Regions from separate parts of the Homo sapiens genome. Here region 2 is linked to region 1. The links come from fine-mapping of genetic effects on gene expression. A gene starts in region 1. The other region holds a variant in brackets. All regions are shown on one strand. Distances are between the middles of the regions.

Region 1 (2,922 bases):
GGGCGTAAAGGGTGGCACAAAAGAGGAATAGAAGACAGAATGAGTCCACATAGCTTTACATATTTGGAAATGAAAAATCCAGGACGTAATGACTCCTGTGACTCTGAATGGCTCTGTGTATTAGTCTTTCAGTTTTCAAAGGGAGTAAATTATATGTGTGAACTGAAACTATATATCTTCTCCCAGTTCTCAGAATTGATCATTTATTTTACATCGCTCTTCAGTCTCTATACCAGTATTTTAGAAGTTGTCATAAGTAATTCCTCTAAGTGCTACCTCGCTGGAGTGGTACTGGAGCAGCAAAGTAGCAAAAGAATACTAGCTGGGAACACAAAATTAATTTTTACAAATTTATCAGTGGCACGTTATTTCTACCAGTCATATAATCAGTAGACTATATAGAAACAGAGGTACTCTAGGGTACCGTACTTGTGCTCTGAATAGCTGCTAGACATGCAGTGCACGGTGCGATGTGTGGTATCTCAACAATGCTTTTCAGAACAAGACTGTAACCTTAAGGTCATGATCAGAAATCACACATTTGAATAATCCATGAATGAAGACGGTGTGTGCGATTAAAAAATACAGTGCTTTCTAGTTAAAATGGGAGATAAGTGAAGGTAATGAAATGTGCACCATTTAAATAACAAAAGTATTGTGGCTATTAGAGATTCACTGTGCTGTTACTCTAATGGTATTAAGAGTTTGGAAGTACAGGCCGGGCGCTGTGGCTCACGCCTGTAATCCCAGCACTTTGGGAGGCTGAGGCGGGCAGATCACGAGGTCAGGAGATCGAGACCATCCTGGCTAACACGGTGAAACCCCATCTCTACCAAAAAATACAAAAAATTAGCCGGGCATGGTGGCGGGCGCCTGTAGTCCCAGCTACTCAGGAGGCTGAGGCAGGAGAATGGCGTGAACCCGGGAGGCGGAGCTTGCAGTGAGCCGAGATCGCGCCACTGCACTCCAGCCTGGGCGACAGAGCGAGACTCCCGTCTCAAAAACAACAACAAAAAAAGAGTTTGGAAGTACAGAGTAGTATTCCAGCTCTTGGAGCCTAGCCACAGGTTTCACAGATGCATCTCCATGCAGAAATGGCTGAAGCTTCCACAGCTAATCTGAACTTTTTAAGGGTTTACATGGCTGGGAATATAATTTTGTATGTATGTCCTTATGTATATACGCGTGTGTGTCCACTAGTTTTTTGCTTGAATGTTTATCATTCCTGTCACTTGCAATTTAAATATTCCTAATAAATAGAAAAATCCAAAGACTAAGATTGTGATCCTTTTTATGTCTATGGTATATTATGAATACAGAGACCTTGTGCTTTTATTGGCGTAGGAATCATCTTGCCCTAATATTAATATTATGAAATCAAAAGGGTAAGATTCCTAACATCCCACATAACACAGCAGACAAACTAAAGTTTTAATCTAGCTTTGGCCCTTACAAATTTTGTGCCCTACGGCAAGTTACATCTCGCTTAGATTTTTTCATTTTAAAGTGGAACTATCTGCATGGATGTTCGTACATGCTATATAACACATCCTATTCCAGAGCCACCTACCATCAGTTGAGCTCTAAATGGTAAATGCCACAGTGAGAAGCAGACAGGAAGGGGCGGAGCGCCAGCGGCGCCCGGGGCTACGCGCCGCACTGCACCGAGCGGCGGCAGCGGCAAGCTTGGGTGTGAGCCCGGGAGCCGCTTTGCTTACCGTCCTGCCGGTCCCAGCCGTCGCTAGGAGGTCCGCGGGCCCTGCGGCAACCCTCGCTACAGACGCTGGGCGGGCGGCGACACCTGGCTCATGGCCCCCGCGGCGGCTCCGTCCTCCTTGGCCGTCAGGGCCTCAAGCCCCGCCGCGACACCCACCTCGTACGGCGTCTTCTGCAAGGGGCTCTCCCGCACCCTGCTCGCCTTCTTCGAGCTGGCCTGGCAGCTGCGCATGAACTTCCCGTACTTCTACGTCGCGGGCTCGGTGATCCTCAACATCCGATTGCAGGTACATATTTAGAGCCATGACTAAGCTAACGGCCTCCGGGGCCAGCATGATGGCCGACTCCCAGGGTCCGTTGCGGCGCGGCGGAGCAGCCAATGGCGAGCCCCACAGTCTCGCGAGAGTGCTCAGGCGCTCTTCGTGGCTGCCCTCTTAGCTGCTAGCGGAGCTCCTCAGGGGGCGGCCGGGAGCCTACAATCCCTAGAAAGAGAATACGCTGTTCCGGAAACAGAACTGCAGTTAAGACCCTCGAAAACATCTAAGAAAGTGTGCATCCTAAAACACCTGACGAATTTCAGAATGTGACAAAGCGCAGAGGATGCATTATTTCAAAACAAAACAGAAGGCTAAAATTTGCAGGAAAAAGAAAATCAGTAAACCGGGAATCCTCGGACTGGATTGTAAGCAAGATTTCAATGAATAAGAAGCTGAAGGTATTAAGGCTGTGATATAGAAGGTACATATTTCATCCCACAAGAGAAAACAATAATAATCAGAAATTTTCGGTGAAAAAAACGCAAAACTGTACAGGAAAATCATCCTCCAAGTACCAGACATAAAATGCTGCAAGCTTTTGAACTAATGGCGAGAGTGTAAGAAAATGGGCTCTACTTCAGTGATCCTGTGGCAGGACGTGGATCAAGACTTGGAACCGCAGAAAACGAAATCCCATAGTAGCACAAAGCTTGGCTGTTCAGTGAATAACATTTAAATAATCGTAAAATACAAATGTTGTTTATGGTTTTTATTGTTTAAGGGCATACTTAATTATGGTTACAAAGTGGAGTGCAAATGTTATTTACCATGTTTTAAAAATACAGCCGGAAAATACAAGTGGGAATGTTGAAGGAGGGCGGGGGAAGTAAATGGAATGGGGGTTATGTCCTTATAAAGTGGAAACTTGAAAGGTACTGTCTGTTGTTGA
Region 2 (2,922 bases), 200 kb before region 1:
AACTCACGTTTCCTTCATATTCTTTTGTCCACATACTCTCATCCATGTTTACCACAACAAGATGACAAACCAAAAATAACAAAGACCCCAATAGTATCACTGGAATGACACTCTTAATTCTCCTTTTTAAGTGAAGAAAAATAAAGTTGGAGAAATTGGCAATCTTGAGGAAATAAAATATGCTGAGGCTAGTAGCAACCCAGATGCTGAAATGGTTGGTTACAGCCCAGGCATTAATAGTAGTAATTCTTACTCCTAAACTATATGAACCTGGATTCAAAACAGTTGCATACCAATGTAATAATATTACCCAGAGCAAACCAACTCTGGAGACTGCCAGAGCAGTGAGAATTTGGTCAGCAAAGGAGATCTTTTGTCTCTTGACCCACTCAATGGAATTTACCAACACTATGAAGCCATTAGCAAAATTCCCAAGAACAAATGTAACCACTACTAGAATGGAAAAAATGATGGGTAGAAAAGTTATCATGTCTGAACAGACAAAAAGATAGAATAAATGAAGGCCTAACAGCACTGGCTGTGATCCTTTAATATCCTGACCTTAAATTTTATGTGGACCTGATTTCTGAATGTGCAGTAACATTCTTTTTACTTTCAAATACTGTGACCAGTGTCAAACAAGAAAGTAGCAGTTTATGCTAATTGATAGTTCAATAATGTATTTATGGAAAACATTCTAATTTTCAAACAGCTCAACTTAATTCATTCATTCAATGTCTGTTCTTGTTAGAGACTTGTTAGATACTGAAGTAGAAGTGAAACCGGAATTTTCATTTGCCAGCATGCAAATAAAGACATATTCTCTTTCAGTGTTTTGCAATGTTTTCCTCATTTCACCTTTCCATAATTTGTGTTCAGTAACTTTAGCTGTTTGTTATGGAAAATGTGCCACATATTTCACACAGTAAATGCCTAAATCTTAAAGGGAGATTAGTTATAACTAGGATCATCACCATGACCAATTTTTATGCTAGATTTAAATAGACAAAATCCAAACTTTTTAATCAAAGTCATCGAAAATTTTCTTGGGAACCATGGGAATGCCAATACACCTTAAAATCTTATTCCTGCTAACCAGTACTTTTGTATGACATTAGTGTTAACAAGCTCATAAAACATACACACATAGACAGACACACACACATACACATACCCATCCAGAAAAAATGAACTTTTAAAATAATTTCCAAAATGGAAAATGCATTTCCAGGAGGTCATCCTGGTGAAATTAGTCCTATTTTCCCACTCAGGGTTTTCAGCCCATAAAAATATATTAAACATATCTCTCATACTTAGACCCTTGGTAAAGTTACTCTCAAGTCTATTGAATGTCTAAATATTTGTTATTTCATTAAAATATTCAACATTTTTGTAAATATTCCTGAGTATCCCATTATTTGACATATAATCTTGCAGTATTTTCCCACCACACACAGGGTGACTACCTTGCCCCTGGACTCTGAGTACACTCACATAGCTTGCTTTGATTAACAGAAAATTGGTAGACTTCACACAGAGGTTTGAGATGGTTTCCACATTGGAGTTTCTTTTCCTTTTCTGTTTATTATGAGAACATTGCCTGGCTACTACTCTGTTCCCAGAAGGAGAATGAGAAAATAATGGAGTCAGTTTGTCC[T/C]TGCCTGATCCAGCCTACTTTGTCCAAACTCTAACTAATTCCAAGATGCAGAACTTGGCCCATCTCATATCACCAGAGCCATCCAGCAAACCCAGCTTAGAAAAACTGAATCCAAAGACATGTGAGATATCAATATGTAATGTAGTGTTGGAGAGGTTTCTCTGGCAGAAAAACCTAACTGATATAGGTACTCTGCAAAACCAAGCGTGTGGGAAATATGTCCACCCTTGTTGTGTCAGGAATAGAGGAGCCAAAAGAAAAATAGATAAGGAATGGCAAAGTTTTGTCATGCAAGGTAGATAATTAAAGGTAGAGGCTGGGCGCGGTGGCTCACGCCTGTAATCCCAGCACTTTGGGAGGCTGAGGTGGGCAGATCAAGAGATCAGGGGATCGAGACCATCCTGGCTAACACGGTGAAACCCCGTCTCTACAAAAAATACAAAAAATTAGCCAGGCCTGGTGGCGGGCACCTGTAGTCCCAGCTACTTGGGAGGCTGAGGCAGGAGAATGGTGTGAACCCCGGAGGCGGAGCTTGCAGTGAGCGGAGATGGCGCCACCGCACTCCAGCCTGGGCGACAGAGCAAGACTCCGTCTCAAAAAAAAAAAAAAAAAAAAAGTAGAAAAAAACCTTTGGAAAGATCTGGGTACTTCAGGTAGCGTCTTCTCTTATTTCTACATGTTGTAACTAAAATAAAGTTCCCACTTCAACTCTCTTAGAGTTGTATGTAAAGATATATAAATGGTGAATTTTTTCCTAGGTATATAATGAGCAGAGTAATCAATAATTTTTATGGTGCACTTCTCCTAATAAATAATTTTCAAATAAAATTATAATGCACACTTAGAAATGAGTCAAAATAAAAATGGTAAACACAGCAATGTATTATAAACACTCATGTAACCATCAAATAAGGCAAGACGTGGAACATTGCAAAGAGCCTAGGTCCACCTCCATGCTGCTTTTCAAGCCCCTAAATGTTTCTTCACATCTGGTAACAATTTTCTACTTTTCCCAACACTTGGGTCACACAATACAATAAAAGCTTCGTCTAGGCCTTATCCTGCAAGTTGGAAGAAACAGGAAATTGATTTCATGTGATTAGCTTTTTGTTTTGTTTTGTTTTGTTTTGTTTTTGGCATAGCAGCTTGATGAGTCCAAACCACAAACTCTCCTTACAGGGAAATTCAATGAACAGCACTGGATCTCAAAATGCCATTCCAATAAATAAAATATAGTACCTCAATTACAAATACACCATTGTATT

Which allele goes with the higher level. Alleles are on the strand shown, and positions count from the first base shown. SD is a standard deviation of normalised expression in the study named.
In carriers of allele T in region 2, the expression in subcutaneous fat of the gene that starts at base 1,646 in region 1 tends to be higher than with C alone (moderate effect, 0.62 SD a copy in TwinsUK).

The links.
Region 2: its variant is fine-mapped to the expression of SMIM10L1 in subcutaneous fat (TwinsUK, PIP 0.93).

The regions. Positions count from the first base shown.
Region 1 is chr12:11,169,549-11,172,470 of GRCh38, forward strand. SMIM10L1 (small integral membrane protein 10 like 1) reads left to right here and starts at 1,646. Exons shown (of 1, transcript NM_001271592.2): 1 at 1,646-2,922. The coding sequence starts at 1,809. The coding sequence ends at 2,015. PRH1-TAS2R14 (PRH1-TAS2R14 readthrough) reads right to left here and starts at 2,063. Exons shown (of 5, transcript NM_001316893.2): 1 at 1,874-2,063. PRH1-PRR4 (PRH1-PRR4 readthrough) reads right to left here and starts at 2,077. Exons shown (of 10, transcript NR_037918.2): 1 at 1,874-2,077. It also overlaps a transcript of PRH1 not described here.
Region 2 is chr12:10,964,863-10,967,784 of GRCh38, forward strand. All of the region lies in intron 4 of PRH1-TAS2R14 (PRH1-TAS2R14 readthrough), which reads right to left. The region is part of intron 4 of PRH1-PRR4 (PRH1-PRR4 readthrough); the gene reads right to left. It also overlaps a transcript of PRH1 not described here and the pseudogene TAS2R15P. Among named protein-coding and RNA genes, the nearest start is that of TAS2R50, 21 kb to the right of the region's middle. The variant T/C (reference allele first, on the strand shown) is at 1,658.